Linked DNA regions of Homo sapiens: region 1 is linked to region 2. The links come from fine-mapping of genetic effects on gene expression. A gene starts in region 2. The other region holds a variant in brackets. All regions are shown on one strand. Distances are between the middles of the regions.

What was found. PIP is the estimated chance that this variant, and not a neighbour inherited with it, causes the effect. A credible set is the group of variants that fine-mapping cannot tell apart.
Region 1: its variant is the best candidate, but not a certain one, in a credible set for the expression of SLC25A35 in visceral fat (GTEx, PIP 0.68).

Annotation. Positions count from the first base shown.
Region 1 is chr17:8,312,698-8,322,426 of GRCh38, forward strand. ARHGEF15 (Rho guanine nucleotide exchange factor 15) reads left to right here. Exons shown (of 16, transcript NM_173728.4): 3 at 225-557; 4 at 804-858; 5 at 2,209-2,267; 6 at 2,369-2,580; 7 at 2,717-2,877; 8 at 3,058-3,210; 9 at 3,322-3,451; 10 at 5,690-5,764; 11 at 5,873-5,965; 12 at 6,053-6,213; 13 at 6,310-6,462; 14 at 6,615-6,697; 15 at 6,802-6,906; 16 at 8,145-9,729. The coding sequence ends at 8,296. Among named protein-coding and RNA genes, the nearest start is that of ARHGEF15, 7.3 kb to the left of the region's middle. RefSeq lists an enhancer at 412-913. The variant G/C (reference allele first, on the strand shown) is at 4,417.
Region 2 is chr17:8,290,056-8,300,203 of GRCh38, forward strand. SLC25A35 (solute carrier family 25 member 35) reads right to left here and starts at 5,345. Exons shown (of 5, transcript NM_001320870.2): 1 at 4,378-5,345; 2 at 2,468-2,533; 3 at 1,278-1,430; 4 at 787-921; 5 at 6-623. The coding sequence starts at 4,752. The coding sequence ends at 450. It overlaps RANGRF (RAN guanine nucleotide release factor), which reads left to right. Exons shown (of 5, transcript NM_016492.5): 5 at 1-32. RefSeq lists enhancers at 5,065-5,144, 5,165-5,214, 5,835-5,964.

The DNA of each region.
Region 1 (9,729 bases), 22 kb after region 2:
TCAGTGCTAACAACTTTCAGGGGCTACCTTTTCAAAAATGGAGTTAATGTTTGGGATATCTGGTTTCTGTATGTCGGGATTTGAAGGGAGTCAGGGTGGAGGAGATCTATAGATGCCTGGACCTTGATATTGCAGTTGCTGGGCAGGTTAAAGATGGAGATGGTCTGGGCGGGGGTGGAGCTGGGCCCCAAGGGCTTTCTCCTTAGGCTACCTGTCTCCCACAGATGCTGGCCTGGCCTGCCCTCCCTGCTGCCCCTGTGTCTGCCACACCACCCGGCCTGGCCTGGAGCTCAGATGGGTGCCTGTGGGGGGCTATGAGGAGGTCCCCAGGGTCCCCCGTCGGGCCTCCCCGCTGCGGACCTCTCGCTCCCGCCCCCACCCTCCAAGCATCGGTCACCCTGCCGTTGTCCTCACATCCTACCGCTCCACTGCTGAGCGCAAACTCCTGCCACTCCTCAAGCCTCCCAAACCAACTCGTGTCAGGCAGGATGCCACCATTTTCGGGGACCCCCCACAGCCAGATCTTGATCTGCTTTCTGAAGATGGAATCCAAACAGGTGCAGGGCCTGGGGGAGTGGACCTCTGGGCTGTGAGGGGACAGGAGAGAGGCAGGGGGGAACTAAAGCCCAGCAAACTACAATCCCCAACAGGCACTGGGCTCTTTGCTTCCCCACCAGCTGCTGCTCTGGTGCTGAAGAGAGTTGCAGTTTTTATAGTAACCATCCCTGCTGGGGCTGGAGTCGGGAGTCCTGGCTGGGGATCCTGGAGTTTTTTTTTCTCTTCACTCTGGCTTCTCTCTCCAGGGGACAGTCCTGATGAAGCTCCTCAGAATACTCCTCCAGCAACTGTGGAGGGGAGGTACTGAACACCCCCACCCCTACTCCCTGGTTCTCTCCCCACCATGCTTCTACCTGAGGGCAGACTAACCTTCAGCTCCAGCTAAATCCCACCTCCACAAAGGTGAGGGGACAAGGGCCAGGGCTCTAGAGATAAGCAGCCCTTGTTTCGAATCCCAGCTCTGGCCCTTATCAATTCTGTGATCTTATAGAAGGCCGGGCACGGTGGCTTACATCTGTAATCCCAGCACTCTGGGAGGCCGCGGCAGAAGGATCACCTGAAGTCAGGAGTTCAAGATCAGCCTGGCTAACGTGGTGAAACCCTGTCTCTACTAAAAATACAAAAATTAGCCGGGCATGGTGACGGGTGCCTGTAATCCCAGCTACTCGGGAGGCTGAGGCAGGAGAATGGCTTGGACCCAGGGAGATGGAGGTTGCAGGGAGCCAAGAGCGTGCCACTGCACTCCAGCCTGGTCGACAAGAGAGAAACTCCATCTCAAAAAAAAAAAAAATCTGTAGCCTTCCTGGGTCTCAGTGTCCTCATCTGTGAAATGGGGCTAAGCATAGGAACCACCTCATGGAATCGTGGGGATATGATATTGTGAAGAGCCGGGTCCAGAGTAAGTGAGTGCACCATTTTAACTCCCTTCCCTCACCTTGAGCTTCTATTGCAATTATTGTCCGAAAATCTATTTGGCAATCATGACCATCTCTTCTATGCTATCCAGGATTGTTAATTATCTTAGATTCACCATTGTTATCAGAAGTTATCTGTGTCCATTCATTTATTCAACAAACATTTACTAGTGTGGTTTTTAGCTTGGGCGAATGGGGGTGTGGTGGTGCTGATGACCACAGCAGGGGAGATAAGGGGCTGCAGGTGCTGGTGGGAGGTGTGAGAGTTTGCAGTCCATCACGTTGAGCTTCCTTGACACACAAATAGGGCGTTCCAGACAATGGTTGCTACGTGAGACGGCTGACAAGGAGACTCAGAAATCTCTGGTCTGCAATAGTTGACATAAGAATGGGGCCCACTTAGTTCAGGGGCTCCTCTCTAAAAGGCACATAAAAAGATCTGGAATTTGGGCCGGGCAAAGTAGGTTACGCCTGTAATCCTGACACTTTGTGAGGCCAAGGTGGCAGGATTGCTTGAGACCAGGAGTTTAAGACCAGCCTGGGCAACATAACGAGACCTTGCCTTTCCCCTTCAAAAAAAAAAAAAAAAAAAAAGCCTGAGGTTTGATTTGGGGAGCCGTCAGGGTCCCTACATCCAACCTGCACATGGGTTGCCCTGTCCAGCATGAGAACAAGCACCCCTACGGTGGGCAGCAGTGGTGGCCCTGGGGACTTCCTTCCCTTTCTTTCTCCACAGGGAAGAGGAGGGGCTAGAGGTGCTGAAGGAGCAGAATTGGGAGCTGCCCCTGCAGGATGGTGAGGGCCTCTGGACCTGAGGGTCCCTGCTGTGACCATCAAGCAGTGGGGAAGGGTTTGGGAGCCCTGGGCTTCCCTGAAGTGCTATGTTTGCCCTCTAGAACCTCTGTACCAGACCTACCGAGCAGCCGTGCTGTCAGAGGAGCTGTGGGGGGTGGGTGAGGATGGGAGTCCTTCTCCAGCAAATGCTGGAGATGCACCCACCTTCCCACGACCCCCTGGACCTCGCAACACCCTGTGGCAGGAGCTTCCGGCTGTGCAAGCCAGCGGTCTTCTGGATACCCTCAGCCCCCAGGAGAGGCGCATGCAGGAGGTGGGAGCTGGAGGTGGGAGATGGGAGGGGGGTGCTGGGGTTGGGCTGCATGGGTCAGGCATAGGGGAGGAGGGCCCAGGGTCCTAGCTTCCCACGGTGAACTGGGCTTCCCACGACTGCCTGCTTTTCTTTCTAGAGTCTTTTCGAGGTGGTGACGTCCGAGGCTTCCTACCTGCGCTCCCTGCGGCTGCTGACCGACACCTTCGTGCTGAGCCAGGCACTCCGGGACACGCTCACCCCCCGTGATCACCACACACTCTTCTCCAATGTGCAGCGAGTCCAGGGAGTCAGCGAGCGGTCAGTGGCTTTCCGTCCTTCCAGGGAACCTGCCCTTAGGCTGCTGGGCACGCCCTTTCCTCTCTCCCGGGCCCAGGTCCTTCCTTCTACGGACCCAGTTAGTTCCCAAACCTTCTCTCAAGAACCCGGGAGACCTGGCTCTCTGCCCCGCCCCATTGCTTGCTTCCCCAATTCCTTCAGGTTTCTAGCAACGCTCCTGTCCCGTGTGCGCTCTTCCCCCCACATCAGCGACTTGTGTGATGTGGTGCATGCCCACGCTGTGGGGCCTTTCTCGGTGTATGTGGATTATGTGCGGAACCAGCAGTATCAGGAGGAGACCTACAGCCGCCTCATGTGAGTGTCCCAGGGGTGGGGAGGAAGCTGGGGAGAGGGATGGGACCGAGGCCACAGCAGGTTGGGGCACCAGGGCCTCCAGGCAGCCGCTAGCCATGCCTGCTTCTGCAGGGACACCAACGTGCGCTTCTCCGCCGAGCTGCGCCGGCTGCAGAGCCTCCCTAAGTGTGAGCGGCTCCCGCTGCCGTCCTTCCTGCTACTGCCCTTCCAGCGCATCACCCGGCTGCGCATGCTGCTGCAGGTACCTGTCCCAGCTGCGGCCGTTTCTGCCCCACCAACCCCATCGGAGAACTCTCCCGAGGGCTTCTTGGCCCTCCAGCTATCACCATGCACTACTCCACCTTAAACATAAAATCCCCCAAATCATAACTCCGAATCTGGGTCTCTCAGCCTAGGACTCACCAAGTCCTACCTTAGGGGCCCTGTGCTCTTCCCCTTACCTGGACTGCCTCTAGGTCCAGGTGCAGGGAAAGGCCCTCTGGCTGGAGACATGAGTTCCACACCTAGCTCTGCCACTGACTCTCTGAGTGACCTTAGGCAAGTCCCTTCTGCTCGCTGGGTCTCAGGGGGAGTGTGTGAGCGGTTTTTGAGGTTGTCTCTGGCTATATTCTTCTACCCACATGCCTTCCCAGCTGGGGTGGTATCACCCCCAAGGGGGCAAAAATTGGTTCTTTGGGGGTGAAAATAATCTTAGTTATTCCAACAGTTGTACTCCATTAAGCTTTAGTGCATAAACAGAGTTCCAGTAGATCTGTAGAATTAAACTTTCATGGTGAGGGAGATGTTTAGGGAAAATTATCTTAAAAAGGCAACTTAGTGGGGTGATACGGGGGAAAAAAAAGTTTGAGATTTGAGACACTTTCTTCCTCCTCCTCCTCCTCTTCTCCATCTCCTTCTTCGAGACGGAGTCTCACTCCCAGGCTGGAGTACAGTGGCGCAATATCGGCTCACTGCAACCTCTGCCTCCCGGGTTCAAGCGATTCTCCTGCCTCAGCCTCCTGAGTAGCTGGGATTACAGGTGTGGACTACCATGCCTGGCTAATTTTTGTATTATTAGTAGAGATGGGGTTTCACCATGTTGGCCAGGCTGCTATCGAACTCCTGACCTCATGTAGTCCACCTGCCTCAGTCACCCAAAGTGCTGGCATTACAGGCGTGAGCCACTGCACCCGGCCTAAGACACTCTCTTCTATAGCAAAGCAGAGA[G/C]TCCTTTCTAACCAGGTCTCCCAATATGGGGATCTTTAGAGCACTGGCACGATCACGGCTCACTGCAGCCTCAAATTCCTGGGCTCAAGGGATCCTTGTGCCTCAGCCTCTAGAGTAGCTGGGACTACAATGCCACCATGCCCGGCTATTTATTAATTTTTATTTTTATAGAGACAGGGTCTCACTATGTTGGCCAGGCTGGTCTTGAACTCCCGGCCTCAAGCAATCCTCCTATCTCAGCTTCTCAAAGCTCTAGCATTATAGGTGTGAGCTACTGAGCCCAGTGAATGAGGGGATCTTTATGTGAAGAGTTCCCAACTAGATTATCAGTGTCTTTATGATCTTATTCAGCTTTATCTATCCCCATTGTAGACAACAAAATAATAATAATGATACTAATCAAAATAGCTCAACAGCTATTAAGCTTTCTAGGAATGGTTCTAAGTGCTATACACCTGTGTAACCTTACCTGCAACTATGTGAGGGTAGGAACTATTACTTGTCCTACTTTAGACATGAGAAAGCTAAGGCACAGGTCACATAACTTGCCTCAGGTCATACAGAAATAATTGATGGAGACAAAATTGTAATCTAAGCACTCTTAGCTACTCTGCTATATTGCCTGCACTAACAGTTTTGGTTAATAATTATTAAAATAATAGGAACCTTCGGGGCAGGCACGGTGGCTCATGCCTGTAATCCCAGCACTTTGGGAGGCCGAGGCGGGTGGATCATCTGAGGTCAGGAGTTCAAGACCAGCCTGGCCAACATGGTGAAACCCCGCTTCTACTAAAAATACAAAAAAATTAGTCGGGCGTGGTGGCACACGTCTGTAATCCCAGCTACTTGGGAGGCTGAGGCAGGAGAATCACTTGAACCCGGGAGGCAGAGGTTGCAGTGAGCCGAGATCGCACCCCTGCACTCCAGCCTGGGTGACAGAGCCAGACTCCGGAAGAAAAAAAAATAAGAACCTTCTTTTCAACATTTAATATGTGCCAAGAACTATGCTAAGCACTTTACATATATTGCCTTCTTGAATCCTCAAAACAATGCTATTGATATGCTAGGTGGGTATTAGCCCCATTTTACAGATAGGGAAGCTGAGGCTCAGAGAGGTAACAGGACTTGCTCAGGGTTCTGCAGATGGTGAGTGATGAGGTCTGTCAGCCTTGTTGAAACTGGCTGAAACAGACAGGGTCCTCTGAGCTGTGGCCCCTCTGAATCCCAGGGCCACAGAGCAGGGGGCCCAGTCACCCTTCCTCCTTGTCCCCAGAATATCCTGCGCCAGACAGAAGAGGGGTCCAGCCGTCAGGAGAATGCCCAGAAGGCCCTGGGTGCTGTCAGCAAGGTGGGCAGTGGGGAAGCTGAAGCAGGGGGAGGTGACAAGGTGGTAGAGAGAAATGGTAGGGAGCAGGGGGCTGGCCGCTGGGGTGGTGACACAGCTCCCCTTACCTAGATCATCGAGCGTTGCAGCGCTGAGGTGGGGCGCATGAAGCAGACTGAAGAGCTGATCCGGCTCACCCAAAGGCTGCGCTTCCACAAAGTCAAGGTACATCGCTGCCCAGGCTCCCCATCTTGCCCTGCCCCATGTTGCTGCTGCCACGCTAGAACCTCCTCTGCCTCCGCTTCCTCGCAGGCCCTGCCCCTGGTCTCCTGGTCACGGCGCCTGGAATTCCAGGGAGAGCTGACTGAGTTAGGGTGCCGGAGGGGGGGCGTGCTCTTTGCCTCGCGCCCCCGCTTCACCCCTCTTTGCCTGCTGCTCTTTAGCGACCTGCTGCTCATCACTCAGCCTAAGAGGTGAGTCCTAGGGAAGGAAGGAGCCCAGGCTGGAGTGGGCAGGAGGGGTCCAGCGGGACCCCTGCTGTCCTTCTGAACGACCTCATCCCTGGGCAGTGGGCAGCGGTTACAGGTTCTGGACTATGCCCATCGCTCCCTGGTCCAGGCCCAGCAGGTTCCGGATCCATCTGGACCCCCTACCTTCCGCCTCTCCCTTCTCAGCAACCACCAGGGCCGCCCCACCCACCGACTACTCCAAGCTTCTTCCCTGTGAGTTGTGTTTCCCTCAGAAAACAACCTTGGGACACTTATCTGACCTCTCAGACCTCCCCCACTTCCCCAGTCTCTCTCTTCTGTGGCTCCTGCCTCAGCCCCAGAGGATCTTTTGGGCCAACTGTGACACTTCCCAATATCCCCACCAGATCAGACATGCAGCGCTGGCTGGGAGCCTTCCCAACCCCAGGCCCCCTTCCCTGCTCCCCAGACACCATCTATGAGGACTGTGGTGAGTATCCCCCTAGAGGGGATGAGGGAAGAAAAAGCGAGTCTTAGAGGAATATGGGGGAGAAGCTAAACAGAATCACTTTAATGTCACCCACCCCCAACCAGACTGTTCCCAGGAACTGTGTTCAGAGTCGTCTGCACCTGCCAAGACTGAAGGACGGAGTCTGGAGTCCAGGGCTGCCCCCAAACACCTGCACAAGACCCCTGAAGGTGAGAAAGTCTTTCATTTATTTATTTTGTATTTATTATTATTATTTTTTGAGACAGAGTCTCATTCTGTCAGCCAGGCTAGAGTGCAGTGGTGTGAGCTCGGCTCACTGCAACCTCTGCCTCCTGGGTTCAAGGGATTCTCCTGCCTCAACCTCCCAAGTAGCTGAGATTACAGGTGCCCACCACCACGTCTGGCTAATTTTTGTATTTTTAGTAGAGATGGGGTTTCACCATGTTGGCCAGGCTGGTCTCGAACTAACCTCAGGTGATCCGTCCCCTTTCACCTCCCAAAGTGCTGGGATTACAGGCATGAGCCTCTGGTGCCAGGCCTTATTTCTATTCTTTTTTTTTTTTAATGGAGGTGGGGGGTCTCACTATGTTGCTCAGGCTGGTCTTGAACTCCCGAGCTCAAGTGATCCTCCTGCCTCAGGCTCCCAAAGTGCTGGGATTACAGGCGTGAGCCACTGCGCCTGGCCGTGTTTCATTTATTCATTCAATAAATATTTATTAAGCACCTACAAAGTGCCACTCGCTGTTCTAGGGACTGTGAATCAAATATATCACACTTCCTTCCTTGCTGGAGCTACGTTCTAGCAGAGGAGGCAGACGATAAAGAATGAGCAAAATAGATAAGTAAATTATAAAGTACATGTGAAGGTTATGAGTGTTATGGAAAAAAAAAAAAGTGAGCAGAGCAAAGAAGGTCAGGAGTTCCAGGGTTGGGCAGACTGAAATTTTCAATAGGGAGGCCGAGGTGGACCTCACTGAGAAGGCAACATGAAGCTTGATGGAGCTAATTTAGGCCCATGGTGTCTGGGGGAAGAGTGTCCCAGCTGGAGGCAGCAGGCAGTGCAAAGGCCCTGCGGCTGGTGTGTGACTGAGGAACTGTAAGGAGGCCAGTGTGACTAGCAGGAGAGAGAAAGGGGGAGAAGCAAATGAGGTCATAGAAGTGGCAGGGATGGGATCACGCAGGACCTGACAGGTCTCTGCAAGGACTCCACCTCTTACTCCAAGAGACATGAGCAGCCACTGCAGGGCTTGACGGAAGAGCAGCCCAGACTCTCTCCGAGCTGCTGTCACCTCCACTTCTGATGCCCTTTCTACCGATGCTCCAGGCTTGTCCATGAATTCCCACACCTACAATGACCCTGAAGGCCTGAGACCCCACGAGGCCCCCTTTGCCTCCTCACCTGCTCCCTGCCCCCACCTCATTGGAGCCTCTGTCTCTCTTCCCCCAGGTTGGCTGAAGGGGCTTCCTGGGGCCTTCCCTGCCCAGCTGGTGTGTGAAGTCACAGGGGAACACGAAAGGAGGAGGCACCTTCGCCAGAACCAGAGGCTTCTCGAGGCTGTTGGATCTTCTTCAGGCACCCCCAATGCCCCCCCACCCTAATGCAGGCTGAGGAGGGGGCACATGTTGGGAGACACCTACCAGTGTGGCACGGAGAGAACAAAGCCCATTCATCCATTGGATTCACTGTCAGTGGAGATACTACCTCTCGTGGCAACCATAGAGATCGAGCTTCAGGACAGAGCAGCCAATGAAAACGGCCGCCTGAACCCACAGCAATAAGAATGAATGAGGATGCCTTGAATGTGTGGCCAATGGAGACAGAGGCTTAGTGCAGAGCAGCCAATGGGTACTGAGCTGGCTGAGCCTATGGCCAATGAGTATTCCTGCTATGCTCAGGGCCAAGGAAGACAAATCTAGGTCATGGCAGTTGAAAAAGGGCCTCATTGGAGATAAAGTCGTAGGATAAAATTGGGAACAGGAATGAGCAGGAAGCCAATCAGCCAAAGAAAATGGTGATCTGGACCCAAGAGACCAGTAGTCACCCTGCTTGTTTCTGCAGCAATGACTGGTCCTGTCTTTTGAGTCTGGGAAATACTAGTTTCCATTCCTGGATGCTTCCTGTGCCCTCTCAAGCCAGTTCTTCTCTTCCAGAAGAATTCAGAGTATGTGTCTCAGAAAATCTGTGTGTGTACATGTGCATGTGTAGATATGTGTGTATATGTATCAGGAAAGGCATTCTGCTGACTGTGGTGTGTGTGTGGTGATTGTGCTCCTGACCCACAAATGACTGAGTGCTCCATTTCTTCCTTTACCCCCCATTTTTCCTATTATTCGCTCCAAGAAAGATGCTAAGTCTGAGCTCCAGAAGAGACTGTGCTGGGTGTGGCTTGGCACCCAGGGGATGAGAGCCCTGAGCTTTGGGTCTCTTGGAGGCTAGGGTTCTGTGGCAGTTGCAGGGCAATGTTATGGAGCAGCCAACGGCCTGGCAGAGGAGCCCAAGGGACTGAAGATGGCCAGTAGCTGGGTCCTGAGGCCCCTGAAGTCTGCAGACCCTTCTCCTTGCCCCAAACACTGGCCTCCATAATTCCTGCCTGCAGATCTCCCAACTTGAACTATAATCCACCAGCCAGCCTCAGCCTTGAGCTTTGGAACCACATTAGATCCTGCATCTGGGTGAAGAAACGGGAGCTGTGGACCACAGGCCAGCCAGTGAACCTCCTGGGCTTTCTTGCCTTTGTCCTGATCCTCTCACAGAAACACTGGGCCAAACAGTGGGGAGAGATTGGAGAGCGGGTGTGGCTGCCCAACCCCATCCAGAGCATCTGCTTCCAGATGAGCCAGTGCCTCGCATGATACCAGAGGAGGCGAGGGACAGAGACAGCAAGGCAGACAGTGGCTGGCAGGGGGGCCCAGGCCCGGGACGAGGCCTCCCCTTCAGCTCAGGCACAGCAACTTGCCCAGGACTGACACTGTCACCCTGACTGCAGGAGGCACAGGGACTCCGGGAGACTCAGAGGGCGAAGAGCACTGGC
Region 2 (10,148 bases):
CCCTCTTCAGAATAAACTTGCTTTATAATCAATATAATCTCTGTGCCTTTGAATCTAACAGGACACCTGGGTCCCAGACGCCTGGGAATTGGGTCTCTCGATTCCCTTTGGTTTTGGAGGGAGGAGTTTAAAACTGTGCATGGGAGCAGGAGGGACTCAAGGGTGGCAGTGGTGAGTGGGAGGAAATACACTTTGGGATGACTCGTTCAGCCCTGAGAGAGGGGTGTGAGTTACCCAGGGAATGGGTAGGGAAGGTTTAAAGCAACACCCAAGGAAAGAAGGGAAACTCATCTCTTGTAGTGATTCAACCCTGAGAACAGATGGGGAGTGGGGTTGGCTGTCCCCCATGGATGGATGAAAGGTCACCTAATCAGTAGTCACCAGGACATAGTGGTGGAGGCACAAGTGGCCAAGGAGTGCTCATTTGGTGGAGACTGGGAAAGCGGCTGTTATTTAGTGTCTGTGTAGTAGAGGGAGCGCAGCTGGTCCCAGAAGAAGAGGGAGAGGATGGTGTGGGGGCCGAGGCGGAAGTAGGAGGCACCTATACCCTTGTACATGCCAAAAATGCCCTCGGTCCGAGCTGTCTGCAGCAGAGCGTCCAGTATCCCCCGGTACATGAGGCCCTGAGAGTGTGTCAGAGAGGGAGGGAGAGCACAGAGAAGGAGTTTGTCAGAGCCCACCAGGGGCAGCACCTCTACAGGCTGCATTTCAGGCTATCCCACCTGCACCCGCAATCTGCCTTCCCCATCCCCTGCTTCCCGCCTGCATCCCAGAGCACTTCCTTACCTTGCCCTGTGCATCTGTGGGCTGGTTGTAGAGCCTTGTGCAGGCCACATCAAAGGGTGCCATGGCCAAGACAACTGCAATGCCACTCATCATGGCAGCCACCAGCGCCAACTTCCAGCTCTGGGGAGGAAAGATCTAAGGGGGTAGAGAGGAAGAGCGTTGTCAACCAGCCAACTATTACACCCCAAGGACAGGACAGTCCCTGCCCTGGGGACACAGATGCTGGTAACTGGGGGAGCTTCCACTGCACCAGTTATAACAGTGCAAAAACAGTGAGAAGGAGGAAGGCCAGGGTACCCTGAAGGCTCAGGTACCCCTTCTGGGAGGAAGTGACAAGAGAACTGTGGGAAGGGTCTAAAGAGTTGACCTCCAAGCCCTCCTGCCACTCCCTCACCTGTGAATGTTGGGCACCATCCCCTCCAGGGCCTAGTGCAGCTTGCCCTCCCCTTCCCCCCTTCCCGAAACAGACCCACCCATTTCCCAGGCAGTACCTCCCACTGGCTCAGGAGGTCCTTGGTGGATGAGAAGGTGCACAGCTGGGTGGAGGAACCGACGATAACTCGGGGCAGGCCGCCCAGAGCCCCACGCCATAACCCCACCAGACCATGTTTCTGGCCAATCTCGGTTAGCGCCTGAAACATGCCCTAGTGTGGGGAAGACCGGGGGTGGGGTTCAGACAGCCCAGCATCAGGGGCTGCCATCCTAACACTGCCAAGGATGGGTCCTTAATAGGAATCTCTTGTCCAGACAACCAGTTCAATGTGGGCTTAGAGCCAGAATGTGGGCCCTTGGTTGTCTAGCCACCCCATTGTTCCTTCCCTGGGCACCCAAGAACTGGGGCGGGATGTATGCAAGTGAGGCCATTCACTGGTCAGGAGAAACAGGGGCAGAAAATTAGAGGAACTGGAGTACATATTGGAAAGAGGCATCAGGCACGGTGGCTCACGCCTGTAATCCTAGCACTTTGGGAGGCCCAGGCGGGTGGATCACCTGAGGTCAGGAGTTTGAGACCAGCTTGGCCAACATGGTGAAACCCCATCTCTATTAAAAATACAAAAATTGCCGGGTGCAGTGGCTCATGCCTGTAATCCCAGCACTTTGGGAGGCCGAGGCGGGCGGATCACAAGTTCAGGAGTTCGAGACCAGCCTGACCAACATGGTGAAACCCCATCTCTACTAAAATTACAAAAATTAGCTGGACGTGGTGGCGCATGGCTGTAATCCCAGCTACTCAAGAGGTTGCAGCAGGAGAATCACTTGAACCCGGGAGGTGGAGGTTGCAGTGAGCCAAGACTGCGCCACTGCACTCCAGCCTGGGCAACAGAGCAAGACTCTGTCTCAACAAAACAAAACAAAACAAAAAAAATTTAGCTGGGTGTGGTGGTGCACGCCTGTAGTCCCAAGCTACTCGGGAGGCTGAGGCAGGAGAATCACTTGAACCCGGGAAGCGGAGGTTGCAGTGAGCCGAGATCGTGCCAATGCACTTCAGCCTGGGCAACAGAGCGAGACTCCATCTAAAAAAAGAGTAAAGAGGGTCTGGGTAGACTCCAGGGGCAAAATGGGACAGAACCGATGGGTTGAGCAGAGCAGTGGCTGGGATTGGATCTGTTGGGTGCAGGCAGAAAGCTAGGGGAAAAGAGAAAGGATGGTCAGGGACTTTGGCAGACTTGGGAACCCTCACCTGATGCTTATACTGGTGCCCTACAGCAATTTCTGAGGCTGCCTGTGCCTGCAGGTGTGTCTTCACCTGGGAACAAGAGAATATCATAGCCTGTGCCCCAGTGGCCATCCTCCTACCTGAGAACCAAATGTCTCACCCCCTCACACTTCCTCTAGGGTGTTCAGCAATGAATAGCCTCTTACTCTGATTATTGTTCTTCCTACTTAACAAACTGGTTAACAAAAAGACTCTGTCTCTAGGCTCCAGCCCCAGGGGGGTGGATCTCCCAGCACTGCAAGACACCCCAACCCCTTCATATCCTCTTTCCCTTGGGGCTAGCAGTCGGGGGTGGAGTGGTTGGAGAATGGCAATATTTCCTAAGGCTGTTCATGTTAGGCAAGACCTGGTGTCCCGCCTCTCATGCTAGCTCCCATTCCCAGACTGGATCTCCAGCCACCACTTCTATCAGGCTCCCCATCAGACTCTGGGCAAAACTTGCTCTCTAGCCCCCAACCCCCACAGAGGTATCGAGCTGACTTTGGGGAGACCACTGTCCCTGAAACTCACACCTTGAAATGAGACCAGACTGCCTCTGCTACAGGACATACTACTTCCCCGTCTCTTTTGCTCTTGGGAGCACTAAGCAGGGCCTAGTCCTAGCAATAAACAGCTGTGTGACCTTGAGTGGGTCACTTCCCCTTTCTGGGCCTCAGGCTCTTGACCCTTCACCTATACCAGATAACTCAAAGGGGCAGATGTTGAGATTGTTAATTCTGTGATGCCCAGGGCCTTCCTGATCCCTAGACTCTCTGACGTATGTTAAATTCCTTATCCTCCCCTTCACAAATCCAACCTCAATATCAACACATAATAATAAAAACAAATGCTACCAAATGCTTACTGTCTGCCAGGATTCGCACTAATGCTTTCATGTCTACCGCATTTGTCTCCCTCGATCCTCCCAATAATCACACAGAAAGGGCACTATAATTATCACCATTTTACAGATGTGGCAACTGAAGCTCAACAACTAGTAATTTTCTTTCTTTTCTTTTTTTTTTTTTTTTTGAGACGGAGTCTCTCTCTCTGGCCCAGGCTGGAGTGCAGTGGCCGGATCTCAGCTCACTGCAAGCTCCGCCTCCTGGGTTTAGGCCATTCTCCTGCCTCAGCCTCCGGAGTAGCTGGGACTACAGGCGCCCACCACCACGCCCGGCTAATTTTTTGTATTTTTAGTAGAGACGGGGTTTCACCGTGTTAGCCAGGATGGTCTCCATCTCCTGACCTCGTGATCCGCCCGCCTCGGCCTCCCAAAGTGCTGGGATTACTGGCGTGAGCCACCGCGCCCGGCCAACAACTAGTAATTTTCAAAGCCAGGATTTTAGTTCCAGAAAGTCTGATTCCAAAGCCCATAATCTTTTTTTTTTTTTTTTGTGAGACGTAGCCTTGCTCTGTGGCCCAGGCTGGAGTGCAGTGACCGGATCTCGGCTCACTGCAAGCTCCGCCTCCCGGGTTCATGCCATTCTCCTGCCTCAGCCTCCCGAGTAGCTGGGACTACAGGCGCCCACCACCGCACCCGGCTAATTTTTTGTATTTTTAGTAGAGACGGGGTTTCACTGTGTTAGCCAGGATGGTCTCCATCTCCTGACCTCGTGATCCGCCCGCCTTGGCCTCCCAAAGTGCTGGGATTACAGGTGTGAACCACTGCACCCGGCCCCAAAGCCCATAATCTTAATCAATACATTCAATCGTGTCCATCAGATGGGTGTGTATAGGGCAGATCAGAAGACTCCGAAGCCTACCAGCACTTTCCTGATGCCTTTCCCTGCTTGCAGTGGGGCAGCACTCTGCCACCTATGCCCTTGGGAAAGAACAGCTCCTATCCTACAACGAGGATCTGCCCTGAAGGTCCCAGGCAAGAGCCCTCTTCTTACCATGTAGATGGGGCTCCCCAAGTAGGCTCCCATGACCCCAGCCATGGCCCCAGCTGCTGCGCTGCGGGCAGGACTGTGGGTGCCTTCGGCTGTGTGCAGGTAGCCCCCAGCCTCAGCCAGCCCATAGGTGCCCAGTCGGATGCCATTCATCAGGAACTGGTACAAGAGGGCGGGGGCCAGGCCTTTCTGCAGGGCAGCAAGGCCATCCACCTTGCCGATGGTGATGAAGGCATGGAAGACATTTCGGTAGTGCCGCTGGTATGTGCCAGGGGCCTGCAGTTCTCCTTGCAACTGCATCCTGGTCTTCACCACCTCCAGGGGATTGGTGAATACACAGGCCCCGCAGGCTGCCAGGCCACTCATCAAGAAGTCCATGGTGGGATAGCTGTAGCAGGAACTGACCCAAGAGTAAGAAAGTAAAAATGGGTGTCAGAAAGCGGGGTTGGAAGACAGGGGGAAGGCCTGTTTCAGCAGTACAGGTTGCAGAAGATAAGAATTTAGATTTGCAGTCAAGGGTGTCAGGGTCAAATGTCAAGTGGTCAAACGTCAGCTGGAATTTGGGAGTCAAGAGCTGGCAAGCAGGGAAGAGATAGAAATCTAGGAGATTCTGGTGAGAAGCTTAAGGCAGGACCCTCTGAGGTCAAGGAGGGGCAAAAGACAGAAGGTTGCAGGTGGGATGGCTCAGGATGGCGGGCGACGGGAGCACGGGAGTAGAGGAGGGAATCGCGGGGTTGGGAGATGGAAGCCAGGGAGGCAGGAAGAAGAAAGCCAGCAAGTGAGAGAAGAAAAGGATCCGGGAGAAGAGCCGGTGATTTCCTCGAGCCAGCAACGAGATCTCGATCCGAGAAAGAAGTCAGGACTCTGGCCAGGAATGAGCGTCCCTGAGCGTCCCCAGGCAGCCACCGGAGCTCGCAGTAGCTTCAACCCCGGGTAGCCTGCGGAGGCCGGGCCGCCACACTCCTGCCACTGGAGCGCGGGGCCAATGGGGAGCCTTCAAGAGCCACAACCGAGGCCCTCAGCCAATCAGCGCCGAGCCGGCTCCGCGGCCAAAGGGAGGAGCTCTCGGCGCTCCTGTCCCCGGAATCACCCGGAGGCGGTTGGAATTAACTGTCCAGGCTCCGCCACCAGCGCTCGGCCGCCGACTCCGGCTCCGGAAGGGAGGCCCGGGACGCGGCGGTTTTGTTATTGGCAGGGAAGAGACCTGGGTTCCCGATCGAACACAGAGGCCGAGCGCAGCAGTCCCCCACTGGGGTGCTGGGACCGCCCCTCGGGTGGGCGGACGGCTTTAGCTTCCTACCCCGGGTTGTGACCGGGTGGGGTCACATAAGTTCAGGTCCACGCCCTGCTCGGTGCCGGCGCCAGGAGAGCCAGGAAGACGCGGCCCGGCTTGCGGGGGGTAGAGGGACACACTTGCGCTGCGGGACCAGTCTCCTGAGGCTGCACGGGTTGGTGCTTGGTTAATTAAATCCTTAGTCCTTAGGCTCTTTATTTTTATTTTTTATTTTTTTTGAGACGGAGTCTCGCTCTGTCGCCCAGGCTGGAGTGCAGTGGCGCGATCTTAGCTCACTGAGAGCTCCGCCTCCCGGGTTCACGCCATTCTCCTGCCTCAGCCTCCCAAGTAGCTGGGACTACAGGTGCCCGCCACCACGCCCGGCTTATTTTTTGTATTTTTAATAGAGACCACCGTGTTAGCCAGGATGGTCTCGATCTCCTGACCTCGTGATCCACCCGCCTCAGCCTCCCAAAGTGCTGGGATTACAGGCGTGAGCCACCATCCCTGGCCTGGAGTTCTTTCATATGAGATATTTGTCTCTACTCCTCCATTATTTATTCAACCATTTATTTAATCAGTATGGACTCATGGACATTTATACTTTGGGTTATAATCCAATATACTTCATATTTATTTTCTAGCTAATTTCGTTCTAGCTTTGGCCTTTGAGAGCTGTTTCCGTTGGCTCCTGTGTCTCTTTAGCATACCCCCATCCATTTTTTTTTGCACACAAAAGTTTTTAGTTTATAAATCTTGTGAAAAATCCACAGTGGCCACAGATGTTACTGTAGCATCTTTACTCCTTTGGCTTTTTGCCACACCAACACTGTCCTTTGCAGTCCCCCTTTCTTCATTCTGGTCTTGTGTTCCTTTCATTGCTTTCTTGAGTTCTTTTCTTCTCATCCAGGCCATGTCTTGGAAGTCAGCATTTGGGTTTATTTTTCTTTGCATAATCCAGTGAATCATAAATCATGCCAAAGCCAGTTGTCTTGCCACCACCAAAATGAGTTCTGAATCCAAATACAAAGATGAGGCCAGGCGTGGTGGCTCACGCCTGTAATCCCAGCACTTTGGGAGGCAGAGGCAGGCAGATCACATGAGGTCAGGAGTTTGAGACCAGCCTGGCCAACATTGTGAAACCCTGTCTCTGCTAAAACTACAAAAATTAGCCGGGTGTGGTGGCAGGCACCTGTAATCCCAGCTACTCGGGAGGCTGAGGCAGGAGAATCACTTGAACCCAGGAGGCAGAGGTTGCAGTGAGCCGAGATTGCGCCACTACACTCCAGCCTGGGTGACAGACGGAGACTCCATCTCATAAAGACAAACAAAAACAAACAAAGATGATGACATCTAGTGTAGTCTCATACATTTTGGCTAGTTTTTCCTGAATTTCTGTCTTAGGTACTGTTGTCTTCCCAGGGTGAAGGACCTCAATAACCATTTGTTCCTCCTGAAGTATGTAGTCAGTTGATCATGAACTTCCTAGTTCAGATAGTTACTAAGTCATTCATGATGGCGGTCAATCCTCAACCAGGGAGAAAAATAAGAGTCCCATCAGTGTTGTTGTCATCATTGGTATTTTAATTAAAACCTTGTTTTTATTTAGTGTCACCTTACTTTCTGGTACTATAAAATGCTCCAGGCTCATTTTGTGTATTTCCTGCCACAGTCCTGCAATCAGCCATTTCTCCAAGGACCCCTATTTTCTTTTATTGGCAAATGGTTTTAGAATCCAAGATCTGGGCCCTAGGTGTGCTTGTTGCTTTTGAGGTATCATTGCTTCTGGACCCTCACATCTGAGAAAGCAAGGAAATATATGTGTGTATACTAACCCACGTATATACACAAACATGTATTTCCATATATAACCATCCATATCTATATTAAGCTAAGCATGAATTCATACTGATGTCTCCAACTTTAATCCATTACTACATGGATCATTCTAGCCACCTCCCTTGTTTATCTAAACTCCCACCCCAACTGTGAGAAACCTGGCTTCCATAATTTGCCATCTATTTACTTAATTGTTTATTCCAGGACACGTGTATAGGAGTATCAGAATTGTTTTGTTTTTCTTTTTAAATTCTTTATTATTATTATTATTATTATTATTTGAGACGGAGTTTTGTTCTTGTTGCCCATGCTAGAGTGCAATGTTGCAATCTCAGTTCACTGCAACCTTCACCTCTCAGGTTCAAGCGATTCTCCTGCCTCAGCCTCCTGAGTAGCTGGAATTACAAGCACGAACCACCACACCTGGCTAATTTGTTTTTGTATTTTTAGTAGAAACAGGGTTTCACCATGTTAGCCAGGCTGGTCTCGAACTCCTGACCTCAGGTGATCCTCCCGCCTTGGCCTCCCAAAGTGCTGGTATTACAGGCATGAGCCACTGCACCCGGCCTAAACTTTTTCTTCTTTCTTTCTTTTTTTTTTTGAGATGGAGTTTTGCTGTTGTCGCCCAGGCTGGAGCACAATGGCATGATCTTGGCATACTGCAACCTCTGCCTCCCGGGTTCAAGCGATTCTCCTGCTTCAGCCTCCCAAGTAGCTGAGATTACAGGCATGCGCCACCACGCCTGGCTAATTTTGTATTTTTAGTAGAAACAGGGTTTCTCCATGTTGGTCAGGCTGGTTTGCGAACTCCCGACCTCAGGTGATCCACCTGCCTCGGCCTCCCAAAGTGCTAGGATTACAGGGGTGAGCCACCACACCCAGCCTAAAATTTTTCTTTATATGTGCCAGGCACAGTAGCTCATGCCTGTAATCCCAGCAGTTCGGGAGGCTGAGGCAGGTGGATCACCTGAGGTCAGGAGTTCAAGACGATCCTGGGCAGCATGGCAAAACCCCGTCTCTACTAAAAATACAGAAATTAGCTGGGCGTGGTGGCACGCACCTGTAGTCCCAGCTACTTGGGAGGCTGAGGCACGAGAATTACTTGAACCTGGGAGGCGGAGGTTGCTGTGAGCCAAGATCGCGTCGTTGCACTCCAGCCTAGGTTACAGAGCAAGATTCCGTTTCAATAAAATAAAATAAAATATTTCTTTATTTGTAATCATAATGTCTCAAAAGAGAATTGTTAACACATACCCCTGTGGAGAACAATCTTATAAACTAGGGTACAGTGCTTATGTGTAGTTCCATTTGCCTTTGATCTTACAGACTCGACTCATTTCCAAAATTACTCAGGTCAGCACCTTTCCCCCAGCTCCCTTCAGAAAAGTTATTTCATACATTAGTAGTATCATTAAATTCTTTTGCCACAATCTGCCTTCCATATTGGGTTCCCTGACCTCCTAATTTTTTTTTTAATTAAAAATATCAGGAGTCAAAAAAAATAAAATAAAAAAAATATCAGGAGTCTGGGCGTGGTGGCTCACACCTGTAATCCCAGCACTTTGGGAGGCCAAGGCAGGCAGATCACCTGAGGTTGGGGGTGTGAAACCAGCCTGACCAACATGGGGAAACTTCTTCTCTACTAAAAAAAATACAAAATTAGCTGGGGGTGGTGGCGCATGCCTGTAATCCCAGCTACTCGGGAGGCTGAGGCAGGAGAATCACTTGAACCCCGGAAGTGGAGGTTGCAGTGAGCAGGAGATTGCGCCATTGCACTCCAGCCTGGGCAACAAGAGTTAAACTCTGTCTCAAAATTACATCTATCTATCTATCTATCTATCTATCTATCTATCTATCTATCTATCTATATATATATATATCAGGGCTGGGCATGGTGGCTCAGGCCTGTAATCCCAGCACTTTGGGAGGCTGAGGTCAGCGGATCATGAGGTCGAGAGATCGAGACCATCCTGCCCAACATGGTGAACCCTCATCTCTACTAAAAAAAAAAAATACAAAAATTGGCCGGGTGTGGTGGCTCATGCCTGTAATCTCAGCACTTTGGGAGGCCGAGGAGGGCGGATCACCAGGTCATGAGGTCGAGACCATCCTGGCTAACACAATGAAACCCCATCTCTACTAAAAATACAAAAAATTAGCCAGGCGTGGTGGCAGGTGCCTGTAGTCCCAGCTACTAGGGAGGCTGAGGCAGGAAAATGGCATGAACCCAGGAGGCGGAGCTTGCAGTGAGCCGAGATCGCGTCACTGCACTCCAGCCTGGGCGACAGAGTGAGACTCTGTCTCAAAAAAAAAAAAAAAAATTGAGGCCGGATGCAGTGGCTCATGCTTGTAATCCCAGCACTTTGGGAGGCCGAGGTGGGTGGATCACCTAAGGCCAGGAGTTCGAGACCAGCCTGGTCAACCTGGTGAAACCCCATTTCTACTAAAAATACAAAAATTAGCTGGGTGTGGTGGCGGGCACCTGTAATCCCAGCTACTCGGGAGGCTGAAGCAGGAGAATCACTTCAACCCAGGAGGCGGAGTTTGCAGCGAGCCGAGATCGCACCACTGCACTCCAGCTGGGCAACAGAGCTAGACTCCGTCTCAAAAAACAACAACAACAACAACAACAAAACAAACAAACAAAAAAAACCCAAAAATG